Linked DNA regions of Homo sapiens. The protein of the gene in region 1 purifies or fractionates together with the protein of each later gene. This does not show direct contact. Each region holds a gene or a part of one and is shown in the gene's direction. Other genes may lie near its edges.

The links. The genes of interacting proteins can lie anywhere in the genome.
Region 2: the proteins of SETD4 (region 1) and CORO7 purify together in Homo sapiens (affinity purification with mass spectrometry; one large-scale study listed by BioGRID and IntAct). This does not show direct contact.

What each region holds. Positions count from the first base shown.
Region 1 is NC_000021.9:36,047,027-36,050,526, reverse strand, and holds part of SETD4 (SET domain-containing protein 4), read left to right. Parts: intron 1-2,130; coding exon 2,131-2,219; intron 2,220-3,500. UniProt on the Homo sapiens protein: Protein-lysine N-methyltransferase that methylates both histones and non-histone proteins. Via its catalytic activity, regulates many processes, including cell proliferation, cell differentiation, inflammatory response and apoptosis.
Region 2 is NC_000016.10:4,361,097-4,364,596, reverse strand, and holds part of CORO7 (coronin-7), read left to right. Parts: intron 1-183; coding exon 184-321; intron 322-1,858; coding exon 1,859-1,985; intron 1,986-2,436; coding exon 2,437-2,612; intron 2,613-3,127; coding exon 3,128-3,236; intron 3,237-3,348; coding exon 3,349-3,435; intron 3,436-3,500. Other genes in the region: CORO7-PAM16 protein, read left to right, coding at 184-321, 1,859-1,985, 2,437-2,612, 3,128-3,236, 3,349-3,435. UniProt on the Homo sapiens protein: F-actin regulator involved in anterograde Golgi to endosome transport: upon ubiquitination via 'Lys-33'-linked ubiquitin chains by the BCR(KLHL20) E3 ubiquitin ligase complex, interacts with EPS15 and localizes to the trans-Golgi network, where it promotes actin polymerization, thereby facilitating post-Golgi trafficking.

The sequences.
Region 1 (3,500 bases):
TCATTAACTGGCATCCCATCTTCTCTAGATGGCGCAAAACAGTGATGTCACTATCACTTTGCACCCAAGGGGTTGGTACTCTGACTACCACCACTTGTGGGTAGGCAGTGATTAGCTCTCCATTGATCCGCAGACCCAAGTTTCCTTTCTCCATTGTCAGCACCACCTCATCCATCACCACAGCCCTAAAGTCCAGTTCCTCCTCACAACATTTGGCCTTTAATGCTCGTAAAATCTCTGTTTGAGGATAGTCTTCCCTGATGGGACAATCTATCAAAAACCACAACTTGGCAGCCACGTAACTACAGATCTTGATCAGCTTGTGCTTCCTTGCCTGGATTGTTTCCTCTTGGATGTAACATCTACCAGTTGATTATGGAAGATGAACAGCCAGATATAGAGGTCTGCAAGAGTCCTGAGCACAGGGGCTTCTGTCCCCGAGTTAGAGTGCACCACCCTCCTAGCAGGTGGAAGCAGCCCACGAATCCATAAACCCGGAAGCTCATCTAACATAAAACTTACCATCTTAACCATTTTGAAGTTCAGTAGTATTAAGTACATTCATATTGTTGTACAATATTTTTGTTTTTGGAGGAAGGTGTAATTGACTTTATTCTGTAGCAGAATTTGGGGATGAGAAATGTCATGTATGCAGCAGTAACTACAGGTAGTTTTTGTTTAGGTCATGAAATAATTGGCAGTTGTTTCACATGTACATTCAAATATGGTTGTTTTATCAAAAGTTTTTGAAAATTGAGACATATTTTACATATAGTGAAATGCACAGTGAAGTGTACAGTTTGCATTTTGATGATAAAGAGATTTACCCAAATATTTTCAAACCAAAAGATCATAGGATGTTGGAATGGGAAGTGACCATAGTGATCATCCAGCTTAATCTTGCTTTACAGATGAGGAAACCAGAAATTGATCCCGGAAGATTTTTTGGCTGAGATTTTTTTTTTCTTTTTTGAGACGGAGTCACGTTCTGTCGCCCAGGCTAGAGTACAGTGGCGCAATCTCGGCTCACTGCCACCTCTGCCTCTCGAGTTCAAGTGATTCTCCTGCCTCAGCCTCCCGAGTAGCTGGGATGACAGGTGTGCACCACCATGGCCAGCTAATTTTTGTATTTTTAGTAGAGATGTGGTTTCATCATGTTGGTCAGGCTGGTCTTGAACTCCTGACCTCAAGCGATCCACCTGCCTCAGCCTCCCAAAGTGCTGGGATGACAGGCATGAGCCACCGCGCCTGGCCTTGGCTGAGATTTTTAACCAACTTAGATGCCAGTTAGAATTAAAGGAGAGTCTTACATCTGGCTTCTTCATGCAGTGTTTATTTAAACTGTTTTCTATTACTTTACATCTAATTTTTCTTTCCATGGTTCTATCTCCGTGGGAGACACTGAAAACGATACTCTTGCAAGTGGTAGAGTTCGACGCTTACTGTGTTGGGCATGCTGGCCTTTCTTTAGCTCATAAGCGTGGGTTATGTAGAGAGCAGACCATCACCTGGCCACTTGGATTTCACTGGATACAATTTTTTGGGGGTAGTTTCTGTCTGTTTACTATTGGTAGCACTATTTCCTGGCATAAGAAAGTGAAGAAATAGGTGAAACCCTGTCTCTACTAAAAATACAAAAATTAGGCACCATCATGGTGATGGGTGCCTGTAATCCCAGCTGCTTGGGAGGCTGAGGCAGGAGAATCGCTTGAACCTGGGAGGTGGAGGTTGCAGTGAGCTGAGATCACGCCATTGCACTCTAGCCTGGGAGACAAGAGCAAAACTCCATCTCAAAAAAAAAAAAAAAAAGTGAAGAAACAGTATAATTTGAATTGTCAGCATGTTTCCACCACTCATTCTGGTGAAGGGTTGACTGCTTGTGGGTGTCAGTCACATAATTGACCTTTCATTTTTGTTGGGGCTGTGGGGCCTCGCCTTGGAGCAGCCTCGTGTGCATCTGCTGACTCGCAGAGTTGGGAGCGACTCCATTGGTAGGCTCATTGGTGGCTTTTGGTTGAGTTACAGTGGGTTACTGGTAGGTGATTGTGGGATCAACGACTTTGTAAGACTCATACTCATGGGTCCTTCCCAAAGCATAGGCGTCCTCAACTTTACTTTCCTTTTGGCCAGGAGGGACAGATGATTATTTCGTTGCCTGAGAGTTGCCTGCTCACCACGGACACAGTGATTCGAAGCTACTTAGGGGCATACATTACTAAGTAAGTGACCACACACTTGCTTACCTGGTGCAAGTGCTTCTCCTTAAGGTCTGTCAATGGCAAATATGTCACTTGAGACACAATTCATTAGAACCCAGTCCCTTGTAGAGCTGATAAATAACCTGAATGATGTGAAAAGTTTACTCCATTCTAGAAAGTTTGCCCTCCCTCCCTGCCTTCCTGCCTGCCTGCCTGCCTGCCTTCCTCCCTCCCTCCCTCCCTCCTTCCCTCCTTCCCTCCCTCCCTCCCTCTCTTCCTTCCTTCCTTCCTTGTCTCTCTCTCTCTCTTTCTCTCTCTCTTGCTTGAGATGGAGTCTCACCTGTTGCCAGGCTGGAGTGCAATGTCGTGATCTTGGCTTATTGCAACCACTGCCTCCCAGGTTCAAGTGATTCTCGTGCCTCAGCCTCCCAAGTAGCTGGGATTACAGGTGCCTGCCACCACGCCCAGCTAATTTTTTTTTTTTTTTTTTTTTTGTATTTTTAGTAGAGACAGGGTTTCACCATTTTGGCCAGGCTCGTCTTGAGCTCCTGACCTTGTGATCCACTCGCCTCAGCCTCCCAAAGTGCTGGGATTACAGGTGTGAGCCACCGTGCCCGGCCAGAAAGTTTGTTCTTAATTCACTGTAAATGGCATTTCTAAGGTTTTTAATAGGCTTCCTGGAGTGTGGGTATGATATCCCGATCCATCACTGACTAAGAAATAAAAATTAAATGGGATAATATATGTAAATCACAGCTGAGTGCCTTGGCTCATAGTAGCCTCTTCTCTTCCATCATAGTAGCTCTTGACAAATGTAAGTTACTCTCTCTTATTTCTACCGTTATTGTACTTCAGTTTTCCTTGAACTTTGAAGAGCTGTTAATTTTGTGAAAGAATTAGTTTTATTTAGGTATAGAAGAGAGGAGGCTGATGGGGAAGAACTGTTTTCTGGCACACGTTCTGCTGGGCCTTTGTTTTGGGGCATCTTTGAGGACAGAGTGAGAGCGACCCGCAGTGGAAGGGATTTCTAAATACAAGGGTTGAAAGAGTATACCGTTTTTTTCTTTCTTTTTTGAGACAAGGTCTTGCTGTGTTGCCTAGGCTGAAGTGCAGTGGCGTGATCTTGGCTCCCTGCAACCTCCACCTTCCGGGTTCAAGCAGTTCTCATGCCTCAGCCTCCCAAATAGCTGGGATTACAGGTGTGCGCCACCATGCCCTGCTAATTTTGTATTTTTAGTAGAGATGGGGTTTCTCCATGTTGGTCAGGCTGGTCTCAAACTCCTGGCCTCAAGTGATCCACCC
Region 2 (3,500 bases), on another chromosome or scaffold:
GTAGGACCAGGGCTGGCTCACCTCTCCCAGCCTCCCCGAGTCCCTGGTAGCCCCGTGTGGCTGTGTGCCAACTCAGTCTGGCCTGCTGGGTGCCCCCCATCCCTACCCAGTTGACCCTCCCATGGGGGCCCTCCTGACCGGGCAGCCCATGCCCCCATCTCCCCACTGCCGGCCTCCATGCAGGTGCAGAAGGTCAGCCTCAACCCCGCCTGCCGGCCCCACCCGAGCTTCACTTCCTGTCTGGTGCCCCCTGCGGAGCCCCTCCCTGACACAGCCCAGCCTGCGGTGATGGAGACACCCGTGGGTGATGCAGACGCAAGCGTAAGTACCAGGGCCGCCCCCATCCTCCCTCAGCGACACTGCAGTGGCTGCCCTGAGTGTTCACCGGCTGAACGGCCTTTTTTTTTTTTTGAGACAGTGTCTCACTCTGTCACCCAAGCTAGAGTGCAGTGGCGCAACCTCGGCTCACTGCAACCTCCTCTTCCTAGGTTCAAGCGATTCTCCTGCCTCAGCCTCCCGAGTAGCTGGGATTACAGGCATGTGCCACCATGGCCGACTATATTTTAATTTATTTTTTGAGACAGAGTTTCGCTCTTATTGCCCAGGCTAGAGTACAATGGTGTGATCTCGGCTCACTGCAATCTCCGCCTCTTGGGTTCAAGTGATTCTCCTGCCTCAGCCTCCCGAGTAGGTGAGATTACAGGCACCCGCCACCATGCCTGGCTAATTTTTGTATTTTTAGTAGACATGGGGTTTCACCATGTTGGTCAGGCTGGTCTCGAACTCCTGACCTCAGGTGATCCACCCGCCTCGGCCTCCCAAAGTGCTGGGATTACAATCATGAGCCACTGCACCTGGCCTAATTTTTGTTTTTGTTTTTGTTTTTGAGATGAGTCTCGCCCTGTCGTCTAGGCTGGAGTGCAATGGTGCGATCTCGGCTCACTGCAACCTCCGCCTCCCAGTTTCAAGCAATTCTCCTGCCTGAGCCTCCTGAGTAGCTGGGATTACAGGCGTGCGCCACCACGCCTGGCTAATTTGTATCTTTAGTATCTTTAGTAGAGATGGGTTTTCACCATGTTGGCCAGGCTGGTCTTAAACTCCTAACCTCATGATCCACCTGCCTGGGCCTCCCAAAGTGCTGGGATTACAGGCGCGCACCACCACGCCTGGCTAATTGGTATCTTTAGTATCTTTAGTAGAGACGGGTTTTCACCATGTTGGCCAGGCTGGTCTTGAACTCCTAACCTCATGATCCACCCGCCTGGGCCTCCCAAAGTGCTGGGATTACAGGCGTGAGCCACCGCGCCTGGCCAATTTTTATATTTTTTTTAGTAGAGTCAGGCTTCACCATGTTGGCCATGCTGGCCTTGAACTCCTGACCTCGTGATCTGCCCTCCTCGGCCTCCCAAACTGCTGGGATTACAGCCTTGAGCCACCACGCCTGGCCCCAACCTTCTTTGTCAAGTGTAACAGAGACAGAGAAACACGTGGAGCATAAAGAAGGAACTTGCACAGTGCTTTCTAAATTGGGCAAACACTTAAAAAGCAAGAATTTTCATACAGATCTAGATTTCTGGCTTCTCTTAAAATACTGGCAGATCTAACCCACTGGGCACACCCTCCTGCAGGGCTGGGAGCCAGCAGCTGCCACTTGCTGTCCCCGCGGTCTGAAGCTCGGCTGCTTCCCTGTGTGTCTGCGTTTATGCCCGTGCCCCCCGCCGCTCCTGTCGCATGCCCACAGTGGGGGCTCCTCCAGTCCGCAGGGGGCCCAGAGTGGTGACCCTGGAGTCCGCTGGCACCCCCTCCTTTTGGCCAGTACACCTAGGAGCAGGCTGGCTGACCCCATGCCCCTCCCCAGGAGGGTTTCTCTTCCCCTCCCAGTTCGCTGACCTCGCCCTCCACGCCCTCCAGCCTGGGGCCCTCACTCTCCAGCACCAGTGGCATCGGGACCAGCCCCAGTTTGAGGTCGCTGCAGAGCCTGCTGGGTAAGGAGGCAGGACGGGGAGCTCACCCCTACCGCAGGAGCCCTGTCTGCCCCACTCCCCGTCATCCTCCTGTGTACCCTACTGCTGAGCACAGGCCTCATGCAGGGCACCCCCCTCACCCAGACTCACTGGCAGGGTCATTTGTCCTGGGGGCTGGGGTGTGGTGGCTGAGTCTCACCTGCAAAATAGGAGGGCGGCTGGGGCCACCAGCTTCTGAGCAGCCAAAGCCCTGGGCTCCACCAAGATTCCCCGAGCCACCATGGAACAGGGTATATCATTCCAGACATTATTCCTGGGCGAGTTGCATCCACTGGATTAGCAAAGGCCTGGGCCTAGGTCCATGCTGTACATCCACCTGGGGTGAGGGGAGTGGGCAGCCGGGACTCAAAGAGTGCAGGGCGGGCGGGGACGGCATCCTCACACGTGGTTCCATGTCCCTGCCACCTGCCAGGCCCCAGTTCCAAGTTCCGCCATGCTCAGGGCACTGTCCTGCACCGAGACAGCCACATCACCAACCTCAAGGGGCTCAACCTCACCACACCTGGTGAGAGTGACGGCTTCTGTGCCAACAAGCTGCGTGTGGCCGTGCCGCTGCTCAGCAGCGGGGGACAGGTGGCTGTGCTTGAGGTGAGGGCCCCACCCCACCAGGGCTGCCCCTCAGTTCCCTGCCTGTGGCAAAGACGCGGAGGGCCTTAGCTACCCACACAACACAGGGAGCACAAACCTTGTGTCAGGCTCCTGCCCGCCTGTCCTGTGATCCTCCCAGCCACCTGCCATGGGGCCTGCCACTTTTATCCCCATTTTACAGATGAGGGAGAAGAGGCACAGAGAGGTTTAGTGACCTGCCCGGGTCACACAGCTGTGTAAGTGGTGGAGCTGGGATCCGAAGCCCGGCCACCTGAGCCCTAAGCCGGAGCTTTTCCCGCCAGTTCACGCTGCTGCCCCCTCACTCTCTGGGGCCTTGTGGTTGGCACTTGGGGCTCAGAGCGCAAGGTGGTCAGGGCAGAGAGCTTGGGTCACCCAGCGGTGGGAGCCTCTGCTGCAGAGGGTGGGCTCCCAGACATGCTGCTTGCCCGCAGCCCCTGGGGACTGGCTTTTCTGCCTGGTACTGATGGGCCTCGGGGTGGGGGCACCTCCCACAGCTACGGAAGCCTGGCCGCCTGCCCGACACGGCACTGCCCACGCTGCAGAATGGGGCAGCTGTGACTGATCTGGCCTGGGACCCCTTTGACCCCCATCGCCTCGCTGTGGGTAAGGAGGCTGGGTGCCTGGGCTTGAGGGAGGGTCCTGGGTCCCGGATAGGGGCTGGGGAGCCCAGAGGTCTTGGGCTCAGCAATGATGAGCCCCTGTCTGTCCTCTGCAGCTGGTGAGGACGCCAGGATCCGACTGTGGCGGGTACCCGCAGAGGGCCTGGAAGAGGTGCTCACCACGCCAGAGACTGTGCTCACAGGTCAGGCAGGCTCAGGAATGGGGCTGGGGTGGCCAGTGTCTCCCAAGGGCTCCTGATCACCCCTG